Linked DNA regions of Homo sapiens: region 2 is linked to region 1. Evidence: fine-mapped expression QTL. Tissue or cell type: whole blood. Region 1 holds a variant in brackets; the other region holds the start of a gene. All regions are shown on one strand. Distances are from middle to middle.

Region 1 (8,102 bases):
AACTGTGGTATTTCTTTAGCTAACTCTGGCGTTCTTTCCGTGCATGTCTTTGTGGACACTAGGAACCAATGCTGTGCTGTGGATGAAGGGTGGAGGGTGGCCTTTTTAATCAAACCCCAGCATAGCCAAAGAACTATTAATTTTTCAGTATGGTGGTTTTATGAAGGTGGGGGGAGGGGAAACAGCCTCAGTTTCCCACCTGTTGATTAGTTGGTAAAGGAAACTATTTGTAGAAATACCTGATTCTCCATGCTTATGTTGCTTCATTTTTCCATTTAGATCTTTCCTTTGCCTCTTACATAAGCAGTGGGGGAAAGGACAAAAAAGTTTGGAGTGTCATGTCATGGTGAAAGGCAAAAGAGAGAGTTTTCAGAGCTGTTAGAGAAGTATCTTTCAAGGCTTAATTCCCACATCTATCTGGTTCCTAAAGGCCAAGTGGCTAAGATCTGATAAAGTCATTAGTGATAAGCTAGTTGATGACTCAGGCTCTGTGGCGACTGTGCTATCCTGGAACATTGTTCTTAGTCCCTTGATGGCTTTTCAGAGATCGTGGATTACCAGTTTTGCATTTGTGGGTATAAGCTAAGGATGTGCAGGAGCGGTTTGGTCAGATATCTCCTTGACTATGGAAATTCTAATTCCCTCCCAGTCCAGCTAGCATACAACATTAGCCCTTTGTTTATAAAGTTAACGTGGACAGTGAGATCACCACCCTGGGTGAATTAGAAACCAAAGTATTCAGCTTTCCTTGTATTTGTTCCCAGCCCTTTGGAGTAATTTTGCTCTGTGGAGTGTGACCACCTTTCCCAGGGGCTGCCATGGTGGGAGAGATAGATTCATGTGTCTCTGCCCTGCTGCCCACGTGATTCTGGTATTGTCACTGTTTGGGGATAAGTAGGGGGTGTTGATGTTGGAAGGAAAGCAAGAGAACTCTGTAGTCTGAAGATCTTCCTAATAACTGGTGAGGGGTAGTGAAATCAGTACCCATTATTTTCTAGGTCTCTAATACTGTAATTGAGATTATTATGGCTACTACAGAGTATTATGGTTCCTGCATTCTCAGTCCCTTCAACCTCATATCAAAGATAAGGCCTCTGGACTAGAAGCTGTTTTTAGCCTAAACTCTGGAAAGAATGAGATCAGGTAGGGGCACACTGGAGCTGAATTCCTCCCTACCACTCGGCTTGAGAATCCAGTTAGTCATTTCTTCCATCCAATATAGGCAGCCTAGCCTCACTGCAGAAGGTGACCAACTATGCTATTTTTTATTTTTTTATTTTTTTTTTGCCTTTGCAGTAAAGATAAATTCTCTCTTTTGGTTTGACTTAAAAATGTTCTACTTATATCCTGTTTATTCCACCTTTACTCTCCACCCTTCCACATGAACTTACTAGCTTAAGCCTTTTCCATAACTGAACTTCCTATTCTTAAAAGTTATGCCTGTTACTCAGTGATTTGCCAGATGGGCACCTCGGGTTTGAAAAGGGAATGGAAAAAATACCCCATTAGCCCTTTAAGATACTCCTGTATCGTTCCCTTCTTTTACTTCAGTGTCTTTAGACAGTTGATGCTTCGGAGATGAGGAAGTATTTTCTCTTGCTTGGTTTTCTGTAGTTCCGTTATTTTTCCTAGTTAGTGTTTGCCCCTCCCAGGAACTATCTGGACTTAGGATGTTGGGAAGGTTTTCCAGATTAAGATACCACTTCAAAAGTGACTGTTCAAGGTGGGCTTAACTTTGGAAGGCTGCCTTTGTCTGAGGCATTGGGAGGATTTAGGTTCTAGAGTTTGAATTGTGGGTGAATGGAGGATTCCTTATTTGTGATTTGGCCACTCTAGTACACTGCTTCTAAAACTCTTTTCCATCAGTGTTCCTGATAGCAGAGGAGAAGGAAATGTGTACCTCTGATGGGAAGGATCCAAGGGCATAGACAGGCAAAGTTTTTCTGAAGCTTTGTTTTATTTTTATAAAAACTAATATATCTTTTTAAAATCATGCTTTATATTCCTAGTTAAATTACTTACTTTTCTTCACATCTTTGTTTCAAAATGGAAAGTATAAAAGATGTTAGGTTATTTATTTCATGGCTTTTCCTATCTTCTTGACCCGATGCCTTATACCCCAGGTGATGGAATATAGTATGAGTATTTATTTGTTTGAGGAGTACAAATTAGAATGACATGTTGTACTACTCTGGTTTCTTTAAAGTTGTAGTGGTTAGTAGGGAGTTTTTTTCAACAGGAAATATGAGAGTTGGGGTATGAGAGCTTTTATCTTACGGAGAAGCTGAAGTTGTATACTGAAAATGACGTGGTTTTTGTGTTCCACCTAGGCTATAGGAGATGGCCTACTCCTGTCTACCTATCCCTCCCCACCCCGCTACACTTAGGCTTAAATTGTGTACATGGAAATTGATCTTGATACTAGACCTTTACATCTTAAGTTTGAAGATTTAGCCTAGATGCTCCAAGACTAAAGAAGCTGGACTAATTGAGCTGAGGCTCTGAGAATGAGAGTGCCCTTGGGGATTAAAGTGGACTGCTCCTCTAGTACTTATGCAGTGGAGGCATGGATTTTGAGCCCAGAAATGTCACTTCAGGAAGAGAGAGGGCCAGACTGCCCCAGTCTCCAGGAATAAAACTGAGTGGCATTTGGGTGGATTGATTTGAAATGGACATTAAAATTAAAAGTTTATTATATTCCTGCTAGACTTTGGCACAGAAGTGTTTTGAAAACAGTGTATGCTAGTGAGGTTTGGTCATATCCCCTTGCCCACCAAAAAACAACTTACCTCACTCTCTCTCACGTATACTCAACACGTACCTGGGAAGGGCCAAAGAACCCTTAGGGAGCTTTTGTTTCATGAACTCTTACCTCTCAGGACTAACTTGAAGCTGGAAAACCGACCAAAATTCCCTTGCATTGGTATAGCTAGAAAGGCTACAGATATCACCTCATCTCAGGAATAAGGGCCAGGTAGCTAGCTGAGCTAATCCTCCTGTCTGTTTCCTCCTCCCCCAGGTGTTTCAGTCACCTCCAGTAACACGGGCGTGCCAGATATCTCGGGTTCTGTGTACTCCAAAACCCAGGTAGGTGCCTGGCTCTGGATAAAAGTGGAAAAGAGATAGACATAGAGGAGGTGGAGTTGCAATGGTAGAAATAACAGTGGACAAGAAGAACCCTAGGAGAGGTGGCAGGAAACCCATCCTACTTTTTCTAAATGAAAGGTCTTCTCTAGACTTCACTTCCTCTAAGAAGTTAAAATTTAGCCCTCTGAGAAAAAAAACGAGAAACGTAATA[G/C]GAAGGTAAAGCGTGGCAAATTGTTTATCGTGTCATGTAATTTACTGTGCAACTCTCCTGGCCCCTTTTCCTACCTACTCCCAACCTTTTTCATAACTTTTCAAGAGAATAAGTATGAGAGTGACAGGAAACTAGTTCATTCCATTCTTTGAGTAAATCTATAACAGTGGGAGTGGGAAAGGAGACGACCTAGTAACTAATGAAGCATTTGAGTGATCCACAGGTTTGTTATGTTGCTTTTATCCCCCATCACCATAAATACTTAAAGTTTGCTATAAAGCACTGGGGGTCTGGGGGGGCACTTCATGCACAAGACCTTCAGCACTTCAAATATCTCAGTATGTGTTTATTTCTTTTGAAATATCCAACGAGTTTTTTTTTTTTTTTTTTTTTTGAGATGGAGTCTTGCCTTGTCACCCAGGCTAGAGTGCAGTGGTGTGATCTCGGCTCACTGCAAACTCTGCCTCCTGGGTTTAAGCGGTTCTCCTGCCTCAGCCTCCTGAGTAGCTGGGATTACAGGTGCCCACCACCGCGCCTGCTAATTTTTGTATTTTTTAGTAGAGACGGGGTTTCACCATCTTGGCTAGGCTGGTCTCGAACTCCTGACATCATGATCTGCCCACCTTGGCCTCCCAAAGTGCTAGATTACAGGCGTGAGCCACTGCACCCAGCGGAGTTACTATTTTTGTAAGGAATATTGGAAGGGGTAGGGACACTATTGGTTTGCCTTTTTTTTTTTTTTTGGAGACAGTCTCAAGAAGTCACCCAGGCTGGAGTGCAGTGGTGGAATCTCAGCCTTCTGAGTAGCTGGGGCTATAGGTGTACACCACCAGGCCTGCCTAATTTTTGTATTTTTGTTTTTTGTTTGTTTTGTATTTTGTATTTTTGTTTTTTGGTAGATACAGGGTTTTGCCATGTTGCCCAGGCTCGTCTCGAACTCCTGGGCTCAAGCAATCCACCCGCCTTAGCCTCCCAAAAGTGCTGGGATTACAGATGTGAGCCATCATGCCCAGCCTGGAGTTCTAAGTTCGGATTTCATGATGTTCACATATGACATTCAGTTTTACAAAGTGCTTCCACATTCCATCCTCTTATTTGGTCTTTTTTTTTTTTTTTTTTTTTTTTTTGAGACGGAGTTTCATTCTTGTTGCCCAGGCTGGAGTGTAATGGTGCGATCTGGGCTCACCATAACCTCCGCCTCTCGGGTTCAAGCGATTCTCCTGCCTCAGCCTCCCAAGTAGCTGGGATTACAGGCATGTGCCACCATGCCCGGGTAATTTTGTGTTTTTAGTAGAGACGGGGTTTCTTCATGTTTGTCAGGCTGGTCTCAAACTCCTGACCTCAGGTGATCCGCCTGCATTGGCCTCCCAAAATGCTGGGATTACAGGCATGGGCCACTGCGCCCAGCCTTTTTTTTTCTTTTTTTTCTTGAGATGGAGTCTCCCTCTGTCTCCCAGGCTGGAGTGCAGTGGCACAGTCTTGACTCACTGCAACCTCCACCTCCCAGGTTCAAGTGATTCTCCTGCCTCAGACTCCCAAGTAGCTGGATTACAGGCGCCCGCCACCATGCCCGGCTAATTTTTGTATTTTTAGTAGAGACGGGGTTTCACCATATTGGCCAGACTGGTCTTAAACTCCTGACCTTGTGTGATCCACCCATCTTGGCCTCCCAAAGTGCTGGGATTACAGATGTGAGCCACCATGCCCAGCCTATTTGGTCTTTACAACAGGTTTGTAGCATCCCTGTTTTATATCTGAGGAAACTGAGGCTAAGAGATTGAGTAGTATGCCCAGGTTCACACAGTTCTTAAATAAGAGCAGAGCTGAGACTGAGACCTGAATATGTGACTTCAAGTGTACTGTGCCTTCTGTGACACCATGCTGCTTTCTGAGGGTCAGGGAGCTTGAGCTCAGGAAAAATCCCAAGACTAGTTTGCTGATCCCTTTTACTCTGTCTCCTCCTGGCCTCCTGGATAGCAGTCCTTTGAGAAACAAGGTTTTCATTCCGGTACTCCTGCTGCTTCCTTCAACTTGCCTTCAGCCCTAGGAAGTGGGGGCCCCATCAATCCGGCCACAGCTGCTGCCTACCCACCTGCCCCCTTTATGCACATTCTGACCCCCCATCAGCAGCCGCATTCTCAGATCCTTCACCATCACCTGCAGCAGGATGGCCAGGTAATAGCCCTTCCCCTTCTCTCCTTTCCCTTCCTCTTCCTTCCTATCCCTTAAAACTGCCTTCCCTTTCCTTTTCTTACCCTTCCTCACCACCACCTTCACCCAATCCCTCCCCAGCGCCAGTCATGGGCACACAGCACATACAGACACAAGCGCACATAACACGAGCGGCCGGCAAAGGAAATCTCAGAGAAGGGCCGGGTTGAAACCTTTTTTGCCCAATTCCTTTGGTGCCCTTCTCCTCCTGTGCCACAGTTGTCCTCATCCCATCAGACCTGGGTCACACCTTCCCTCTTTCCTCTCCCAGCCTTCCCTCTTCCCTGACATTTTAGCTTTCCCTTCTAATGGTGGAGTTCTATTGTCAAAGTTTGTCCCTTTATTTTCCATATATCCTGGTTCTGCCTCAGCTACCATATTTGCAGATGATTCTCTGTTGCCAGCGCCAGCAGGAGGAGCAGGTAATGAAATTGAATGATCATATGCTTGAACCCACTCCTTTTCAGTCCCCATTTCACCTTCACAGCCTCAGGGAACTTGAAAAGACTGCGCGGTCACAAATCGGGATACACAAACACAAACACCTTGCTGAGCTCTCTGGCCTCCCCTTCCTCTCTCCTCCTCCCCTCCCCAACACCCTCTTTATCTTTGTACCCTTCCCCAGCTGTGGAAAACATTCGGTTACCAGAATGGAAAAGATTCTTGGGGCAGCATCTGGAGCCTGAGGCCTCAGACTGCCTCTCATACCTGCCTGAAATGGGCTCACAGATGTGATGTGTGGTAGGGGTGGGGATCTGTGGGGCGATGCAAGTGGCCTCTTGAGAGCTCCATTATAGGTGGCTGGAGCTAGAATAAGGGCTTCCTTCCTCAAAGACAGCTTTCCAAATTGAGGCATTAATGGGGATCAATGGAAATGAAATTGCCTTGTGATCACCCATCTCCAAGAGCAGGGGAGAGAGGGGGTAGTGTGAGAATGTAGAATTGAAAATGAGTAGAACTCACTCACTACCTTGTCTCTAAAGGTATCTTGCCCTCTTCATCTTTTCCCTATTTAAAAGTCAAAAATGCCTTCCTGCTTGTAAGAAAGGGGCTTTAGCAGCTATGCAGACCAAATTTTCTATGGTTCTAATAGTAGTGAGGGGAATGGGAGAGCAAGACAGTTTGCACATCTCCACCTGAAGATGTTACAAATTTGTACCACTAACTAGACACCTTTTTCCTCCTCATGATCCTCCCATTCCCCTGCAGACGGGCAGCGGGCAACGTAGCCAGACCAGCTCCATCCCGCAGAAGCCCCAGACCAACAAGTCTGCCTACAACAGCTACAGCTGGGGGGCCAACTGAGGCCCTGACCCTCTTCTCCCGGTCCCATCTTCTGAGAGGGCTTCTCAGCCTGGAAACTATGGAAACAGCATCAAAGAGAAAGGAATGTGGGGGGTTTCCGCTGCCCCCCACCCCCAGCGGCCCACCCCATGCCTCAGCTTCATGTCTGTCCCATTCCTATACCATCCCCACCCTGTTGTATGTATTATAGGATTTGTATTTTCTCCTTTTTTTTCCCCCTTCCATTCCTTCTCCCCTCTTGCATTCAAGATTATGAAACTTTGCTATGGGCCCTGCACTTCCTTTGCTTCCTCCTGTTCACCCTGGTGGTGTACGGATGAGGCGGGGAGGTGGGACCCCCAAACATATATCAGCCCAACAGCCCTAAGTCTCCTTCTTTATTATTAGGAAAACAACAACAACAACAAACAAAAAAATGGCGTCATGAATATGAACAGCATTGTCAGATGAATTAGTTGAAGTGGTTTTTTTTTTGTTTTTTTTTTTTTTTTGTACTGTGTCCTCAAATTTAATGGATTAATGTGTCTTGTATATATAAAAAGAAAACCTCTACCTTCAGCCTCTGCCTATTCTTGCTCCGTCTAGGACATCCTCAATTTCGTCGATGACCAGCTTGGTGAATAAGTATTACTGTACCAACTGGGCCTCCTCTAGCAGGCCCCTGAAGGCAGTGGAATAAAATGAAATCTTCGCCCTTTAAGAACTCCTGACCTTAATGTGGTAGTAGTATCTTGTCCTTGAGGGGATTTCCTTCCCCTCACCCCTAAGACTTTCACAACCTGGTGACTGGAAAGAACCACCACAAATCTTCATTTCCTCCAGAAACTGCTACATCTACAGCCGATTTCAGGCAGTAAAGGGAGAGGGATAGAGGAGATTGGGTGGAAAATGGAGAGGATCAAGAAGGAGCTGAGACCATTTCAAAGAAAAAAAATGCTTTATAGAGTTTTAAGTATGACTTAGATGGGTCCAGGCAAATAAACTAAAAAGAAGTGAAGGCAACATGTATCGTCTGGCAGAACTAAATCTTGGAGTGGGGTGAGGGATGAAAGACTACATATTGGGTACAGTGTACACTGCTCGGGTGATGGGTGCGCTAAAGTCGCAGAAATCACTAAAGAACTCATCCATGTAACCAAACACCACCTGTACCCCAAAAACGAAATAAAAAAACAAAACCTTGGGGCCCATTCCCCCTAGGAATGGACTACTGTAGTAGTGGCTTCTTGGATGCTTCTCTGTGACATAGCTATACCCAATTCTTTGAAAAAGAATCTAGAGCAAGGTC
Region 2 (8,102 bases), 48 kb before region 1:
CACCTATAACCAATATCCAGTTTATGCAATGGAACATTACCACTAACTTTCTTTTTTTTTTTTTTTGAGACGGAGTCTCGCTCTGTCGCCCAGGCTGGAGTGCAGTGGCGCAATCTCAGCTCACTGCAAGCTCCGCCTCCCGGGTTCACGCCATTCTCCTGCCTCAGCCTCCCGAGTAGCTGGGACTACAGGCGCCCGCCACCACGCCTGGCTAATTTTTTGTATTTTTAGTAGAGACGGGGTTTCACCTTGTTAGCCAGGTTGGTCTCGATCTGCTGACCTCATGATCCACCCGCCTCGGCCTCCCAAAGTGCTGGGATTACAGGCGTGAGCCACCGCGCCCGGCCCTACCACTAACTTTCAAGTCTTGTGTGCCCATCCCTCATTGAATGCTCCGCACCCCAAACCTTAACTTGTCAATAGTCCTCATACACTTCTTCACTGTTTTATCGTGTCACCCTAAAAAAGATGCTTAGCTTTGCCTGGTTTTCAACTTGATACAAATGGAAAAATACTTTAAGAATCCCTCTGCAACTTGTTTAAAAAAAAAATTTTTTTTTTTTGAGACAGGGTCACACTCTGTCACCCAGGCTGGAGTGCAATGGCACAATCTCAGCTCACTATAACCTCCACCTCCTGAGCTCAGATGATCCTCCTGCCTTAGCCTCCTGAGTAGCTGGGGTTACAGGCACACACCACCATGCATGGCTAATTATTAAACATTTTTTTTTTTTGAGATGGAGTCTTGCTCTGTCACCCAGACTGGAGTACAGTGGCATGATCTTGGCTCATTGCAACCTCTGCCTGCTGGGTTCAAGCAATTCTCCTTGCCCTCCTGCCTCAGCCTCCCAAGTAGCTGGGACTACAGGCGCATGCCACCATGCCCAGCTAATTTTTTGTATTTTTCGTAGAGATGGGGTCTCACCATGCTCGCCAGGCTGGTCTCAAACTCCTGACCTTGTGATCTTCTCATGTGGGCCTCCCAAAGTGCTGGGATTACAGGCGTGAACCACCGCGCCTGGCCCATTTTTAAACTTTTTATAGAGACAGGGTTTCCCCATATTGCCTACGCTGGTCTCGAACTCCTGAGCTGACGTGATCAGCCTGCCTCGGCCTCCCAAAGTGCTAGGATTACAGGTGTAAACCACCTCGCCTGGCCTTAAATTTTTTTTTTTTTTGATACAGAGACTCACTCTGTCACCCAGGCTGGAGTGCAATGGTGTGATCTCTGCTCACTGCAACCTCCGCCGGGGCTCAAGTGATTCTCCTGCCTCAGCCTCCTGAGTAGCTGGGATTACAGGCACACACCGCCACGCCCAGCTAATTTTTTTGCATTTTTAGTACAGTCGGGGTTTCACCGTGTTGGCCAGGCTGGTCTTGAACTCCTGACCTCAGGTGATCCACCTGCCTCAGCCTCCCAAAGTGCTGGGATTACAGGCGTTAGCCACCGCACCCAGCAAAATTTTTCAAATATACTTTATTGAGGTTGAATTTACATACAATAAATGCATTCATTTTATGTATATAAATTGATGAGTTTGACAAATGAACATACCCCCTTCACCACCACGTCAATCAAAGTAAAGAATATTTTCATCACCTGGAAATCTCCCCTCTCCCAGCCCAGGCAACATGATGTACTCTTTTACAGTTCTGCCTGTTCTAGAATTTCATATAAATGGGGTGGAAGCACATGGTACATATTCTCTTGTGAACGGCATTTTGGCTTTCTTCACTCAGCATGGTTTTTTTGTTTTTGGTGAGACAGAGTCTCGCTCTGTCACCCAGGCTGGAGTGCAGTGGTTTGATCTCAGCTTACTACAACCTCTGCCACCTGGGTTCAAGGGATTCTCCTACCTCAGCGTCCCGAGTAGTTAGGATTTTTTTCTTGTATTTTTAGTAGAGATTGGGTTTCACCATGTTGGCTGGTCTGGTCTCGAACTCCTGACCTCAAGTGTTATCTGCCCAACTCGGCCTCCCTAAGTGCTGGGATTACCGGCATGAGCTACCATGCCCGGCCCACTCAGCATGTTTTTGAGATTCATGTTTGCAATTTTTTTCATTCAGAAGTATTTTGAGGACTTGTCTTCATATATTTATCTTCAGTTTTTCATTTTTTACACTATTCCAGAATATGAATATACCACTACCTATTTTTTAGAAACAAGGTCTTGCTCTTGCCCATGCTGGAGTGCATCAGTGCAATCATAGCTCACTGCAGTCTGTAACTCCTGGGCTCACATGATCTTCTGGCCTCAGCCTCCCAAAGTGCTAGGACTACAGGTATGAGCCACTGCACTCAGCCTATATAATAATTGAAAAGTGGACATTTGAATTAAGTTTCTTCTTCAAATATTATGAACAATGCCCCTATAAATAATCTTGCACATGTTTCTTGGTACACATGAGCAAAACTTAATTTCTCTATGGTAGGAGAGAAACTGTTGGACCATGGATTAGGTACATGTGCAATCTTACCAGACAATGACCAGTTATTTTCCAAAGTGGTTTTACTAATTTATACTTTCACTAGCAATGGTTGAGAATTTAGAAAAAATTTTTAAGCAAAAGGAATATTGCTCTGAACTAGACCAAGGGACCCCTGAATAGCCAAAGTATTGATTGGTTCATGATGTGCTAGAAACTAACCCTATGTCTTTCTCATGAGGCAGGCAGGACTGTTAAGGTTTCAAGCCAGGACATCCTCCTAGAGCCTTTTCATGTACTATGTCAGCAAAGAACAAAGAGGGGAAGGTTAATAGCACTTGTTAATGAAAGTACAGTGCTCTAGGAGTTGAGGGAGTCATGAGCTCTAGCTCTACAACTAACCTGTTTTTCATTCAGCAACAAATTACAGAGTACCTGCTATGTGTAGGCCCTGGCACTAACCTGTTTTTCATTCAACAAGAAATTACTGAGTACCTACTATGTGTAGGTCCTGGCTTTATAGTCGTGAACAAAACTGGCATGGTGCCTGCATTCTTGAAGCTTACGGTCTAGCGGAAGAGAGAGGCATGTTTTAAACAAATGGACAAACATAAAAATTATGGTAAATGCTATGAAGGAAAAATCAGGGTACCATGTGAAAATAAAGAGAGGGGGAACCTACTTTAAAATAGGTAATAAGCATTCCTTTTTTGGAAGTAACATTTAAGCTAAGATCAAAAGAATGAATGAGCTAGCCAATTGAAGACCATTCCAGATCACAGGAGCAAAAAGGGTGGAAAATTCAGCCAGTGGAGCTGGGTCCCAGTGATCTGGGGAGAGCCACACAAAAGGGGGTTGGTAAGGGAAGCAGGTGTCTTTTACTTAGAAGCGAAAGACTAAAGAAGCAGAATGAGAGTGGCAGTGGGATAGCAATAATTCTGATTCACAAATGTTGGGTTTGAGATGTCTACTACAAATCTAAGTGGAAATGTCAGGTAATCAGTTGGCAATATATGTAAGGAACTCAGGAAAGAGTTCTAGGATAGAGATAAAATTTCATCTGTAGCTAAAGCCAAGGAAAGGAAGACAGTCACCTAAGGAGAAAGTACAGACAAAGATAAAAGACCACTGGGTTATTCACTTCCTATACGTCTTCTGGTAAACTGCCTCCTTTTCTTGGGCTTCTTGGTAACATGAATGGTGGAATTAGATGATTTATGGAGCTCCTCTTAAGTCTAAAATTATGTAAAGGTAACCCTTCTCATTGCTCTTGGGTTAACCTTAATGATCTCAACCCCATCCTAATCAAACAAAAAACACTGGGTAGTTTAAGATGAGCTGGGAAATATTTTACTACAAACAGTTGGGAACTTCGACCCAAGCCCTTCATTCTGCAGATACAAAAACAGAAGTTCCAGGATGAGCCACATGCTTGCCACAGCACTGAGCAGGTAAGCCAAGTTCCAAAGCGCACAGTGCCTGCTCAACTTAGTAAGTACAAGGACAAGTGCACGCAAAGAAACATGAGAATTAAAGTCATCACTAAAGGCAGAGGAAATCTCATTCTTGACCCTAAAAGATCTGGAGAAGTATGTTTAACTTGTGCCCTAAGGACCTACCTTGGGGGCATTGTGTCCCACAGGGACATGAGGTCCCCTTCGAGATTTCATTGCAAAGCGCATGATTTGCCTCTTCACAAAAATAAATAGCAGTACAAACACCTGTCCAAAAAGATGTAAAAATCCTTTAATAAAAAGTCAGTTTTGTTTTGTTTTTTTTTTAAAAAAGCATGCCTTCATTCCAAATCCCCAGATTCCGGCTCTCAGGAATGTTTCAGGGTAAAACTTGGGGCAAAGCAAGGCCGTTATGATGGGGGTGGATCTAAGAAGCCAGCAGCAGGGAGGCGTGGGGTCTGTGCTCTAGCGTTAAAGGGAGGGTTCTAGACTAACGAGGGCGGGTCGGCCCGACTAAGTGACTTAAACTCCCACCTACTCCTGGAATAAGGAGTCAAAGCCCGGATAGGCGCAGGTGAGTGGGTGGAGAATGCAGACGGGGTACAGCTCAAAAGGAGGGTCTCTACTGGGTAAGATGCGACAGCAGGAATGGGGTGGGGTAATCTCCTCACCAGGCTCCCGTAGGCCATCACCAGCACGACATTCACCCCGGAGAGCCAGTTACTGCCGGACGCCATGGCCTCCCTACCTCGCGCAGAATTGTTCGGGTTTACCCCGCTGTCCTGGCTGGTCAGCCCAGGCTCCGCCGAAGCGACGGCGCCTGGGTCCCCTGGAGCTCCCCGGCCATTTCCTTACGGGGGAAGACCAAGCCAGACCCGGCCTGAAAACATGGCGGACAGGCAGGAGAGCTGGGAAAGGAGAACGACGCCTTCCAGCTTCCCCCTGACACGTGACTCAGGCAGGCAATGGCACCCAGGAGCGTCGAGCGCTCAGACGCGGAACTACGACAGTAAGAGGAAGCGGCGGCCATCCGTGCGTCACGTGGTGGAGGCAGGGCCGCCGTGAAGGAGGCGGGGTGGACTCGCGGAGCCGGAAAGAGGTGTCTCGTGGCGAGGCGGCACGCGCACGCTTGCGTGCGCGCCCCTTTTAGCGTCACGCGCTGAGGGACGCAGGAAGGCAAGTGGGCGGGGGAAGGCGCGAGAGCGAGCGCGAGAGGGAAAAGGAGGGAGGGGGTGGGGAAGAGGGAATCTTATATCACGTGACAGGGGCGGCGCGGCCCGGGGTGTCAGTGTGGAGGAGACTGAGGTAAAGTTGGGAGCGCAGCGGCGTTGGCGGCGGCGGCGGCGGCAGCGGCAGCGCGGCGGGGCCGGGTATTGTCCGCGGCCCCTTTAAATCCGCGATCCCCCTTTTACCCTCCCTCTTTTCTCCCCTGCCCCCGCCGTATCCCCTCCCTCGGTAGGCCCCCCCACACCGTGTGTTCCCCCACTGTACACCCCCCCCCGAGTCATGCGAGCCCTGGCGCCCCCCACCTCGAGTCGGCCCCCGGAGGTTTTGTTTATGGTTGGGTTCGCGGCCTAGTGGGCCGCGCCAGAGCCGGGGCCTCGATTTGGGAGCGTGGCCGGGGCGGGGCTTGGAGCAGCCGTAGGAAGGGGGGGCCATGCGGCTAGAGCCTGAGAGGGGAGAGCGAGAAAGAGCGCGAGCGAGCGAGGCCTGGGCCTTGCCTGAGGTAGGGCTCTCTCTTCACCCCGGCCGGTGCCTGCGGAGGAGAGGGCCTCCTCCCTTTCCACCCACTGCGGGCCTCCTCTGATCCGGATCCGGCCTGGTTTGGGGGTGGCGTGGGGGAGGGAGGGCGATGGGGTGGAGCTCCCCCAAACTCCCCCATGTGGCCCTCAGTTTGGTGTGCGAAGGATTAATTTGTTCCGGCTGGGAGGTAGGGAGGAGATTGGCCCCGTGGGCTCTCGATGTGGCGCTGAGGGGGGTGAGCCTCCCATCCTCCACCCGTGGGCTTGCGTCCCCTCTCCGTTTCCAGGCTCTTTGTCAGCTCCTCTTATTACCCTCCCTTCTTTCTCACCAACCCAGTTCTTGGAATATGTTTTTGCTGCTGTCTTTAGCTTCCTGTTTATACTGTAGTTTGGGTACCCCAAACAATTGTGTTATTTGGGAAGCTGGACATGGAGGCCCCCATAGGGTGTATTTACGCTTAAGGGACGTCACTAGAGCACTGGGGTATTTGTTCACTCTTCTCATAATGGTACAGGAATGCCCAGTTTCTTCAAACCCTTAACCTTGTGGACAGCCCTTAAATTGCTTTGCAAACTGATGTCACAAACTGGAGACTGCTCCTTTTCCACCATTCTTGAAATGTAGCCACCTCTGGTGTAGGATGTTGTGGAAAGAAAAACACCACAGTAACAGGCGTTTTTGTTATTATTGTTAACGTTTTTGCCTTTGACTCTCCCTGATTATTAAATGGAGAAATCCTTTTTTTTTGTCTTCTCTCCCATCCTACCTTCCTCCGCCGCATATCCTGTTTTGGGGATACCTGATGTGACTTGCTGGGAGGTGATGGACATTACTAGTAACCAGCGTTTCTAGAGAATTAAAACATTTTGGCTGTGTATCAGTTGATAAAACTGCTTTGAGATCTGTCTCCATTGTACTTAAAGATTAGACTATCCCAATGATTACAGAGAATTAAAACATTTTGGCTGTGTATCAGTTGATAAAACTGCTTTGAGATCTGACACCATTGTCCTTAAAGATTAGACTATCTCAATGATTGTTTCCTTTGTGAATGGGAAATATTGCTGGCACATAAACTAGTGATGAAAGGCCTAAAAATGTCCTGTTTTGTTTTTCATCTTTAAAGCTCCTCCTTGCTATGTCCTAACTGGGAAGTACTCTTACTAACTAGATATCAAGGTGGTGGGGAAGGGGATGCAGGGGCCATTTCAACAAAGCATCTACAGAAATTAGTTGTTCTGTTAGAGGTAGCAAATTTTACCCAACTCAGTCTAGCTTCAGTTTCTGAATTGTTTCTTAAATTAGATTGTAAGCTCCCTGAGGGCAGCTACTAAGTCATACTGCTTTTGTATTTTCCTGAAGTATTGGACACATAGTAGATTCTCAATAAATATTTGTTATTTAGTTTTTTCAGTGAAATTTCTCTGGCTATTTTTTTAAGTAGCTAGTTTTCAAAAAAGAGTCAAGGGCACTCCTGTGTTGAAACCTCTGTTTACTCTCGCACGATTTCCTTGGTCTCCAATACTTCTCACCCTACTTCCTTTAAATCTTTTTATTTTCTAAGAAAGAGCAAGTAAGTAACAAGATTCTTCATCTCCAGTGTGATAGCTGGGAATGGGTCTGCTTGCTACTAATTCTGTGCCCTCAAGTGATCCATTCCAGATCACTTACTTTTGACCTGTTGCTCAGTGTTGTCACTACTAGGTGGTAAAAATTTTCTTAGTCACATTTCGAAGCACTTGTAAGAGGGAAATGTTACTAGCAAGAGTGATTAGGAGAATTTTTTTCTTTCTTGGTTAATTATATCTTTCAAGATGACTTTTTAATATGTTTACATCTGACTGGTACAGTATATGCAATAGTGTATAGCTAGTCATGCAGTTTATACCTGCAATATAACTTATCCTCACAAATAGATATCACATGTGGAGTAGAAAACAGTCAATATTTGTAAGTTACAGTAGTGGGTTGGAAATGACTATGCCATATTAGAAACTTCATCTTAGAGCCAATTTTAAAACAAAATAGTTTTCCTCTCGTCTTTATATATATACGTATATATGTGTATATGTAGTCTTGTTGATTTGGATTCGGGGTACTTGGTTAAACATTTTTTTTTTTTGTAAAGTTGAAACGACTATAATGCTAACCTGGGAAAATGGGCTACTGTGTAGCAAATAATCCTTTCTAGCTTGAAATACTTATGGGCTTTTGTGTGCCAATATGTGTAGGGGGAAGAGGTAATGGGTTAAAAATTACCTGAGAAGCTACCTTAAAAAAATCTTTCTTGATACAAAGACCTATGCAACCTATTGACGCAACTTGGTGAAGAATTTATGCACAGAAAAAGTCAGCTTTCTCTGTGACATCCAAGAAAGTCAGATGAAATTCACTTCCCTAATAGTTAATCCTTGCATATTTCTTTAGAAGTCCTTCCTCCCACTCAAATCCAGTAATATCTCTGGGCAGTCTAGAATT

The links. PIP is the estimated chance that this variant, and not a neighbour inherited with it, causes the effect.
Region 2: LTAP1 starts here. The variant in region 1 is fine-mapped to the expression of LTAP1 in whole blood (TOPMed, PIP above 0.99).

The regions. Positions count from the first base shown.
Region 1 is chr1:154,263,482-154,271,583 of GRCh38, forward strand. It overlaps UBAP2L (ubiquitin associated protein 2 like), which reads left to right. Exons shown (of 27, transcript NM_014847.4): 25 at 3,020-3,087; 26 at 5,276-5,473; 27 at 6,719-7,366. The coding sequence ends at 6,814. Among named protein-coding and RNA genes, the nearest start is that of HAX1, 5.1 kb to the right of the region's middle. The variant G/C (reference allele first, on the strand shown) is at 3,299.
Region 2 is chr1:154,215,790-154,223,891 of GRCh38, forward strand. It overlaps LTAP1 (lipid transport auxiliary protein 1), which reads right to left and starts at 4,801. Exons shown (of 7, transcript NM_001098616.3): 1 at 4,553-4,801; 2 at 4,047-4,148. The coding sequence starts at 4,618. It overlaps UBAP2L (ubiquitin associated protein 2 like), which reads left to right and starts at 5,166. Exons shown (of 27, transcript NM_014847.4): 1 at 5,166-5,186. RefSeq lists enhancers at 4,174-4,921, 4,500-4,939, 4,922-5,669 and silencers at 4,260-4,329, 5,190-5,339.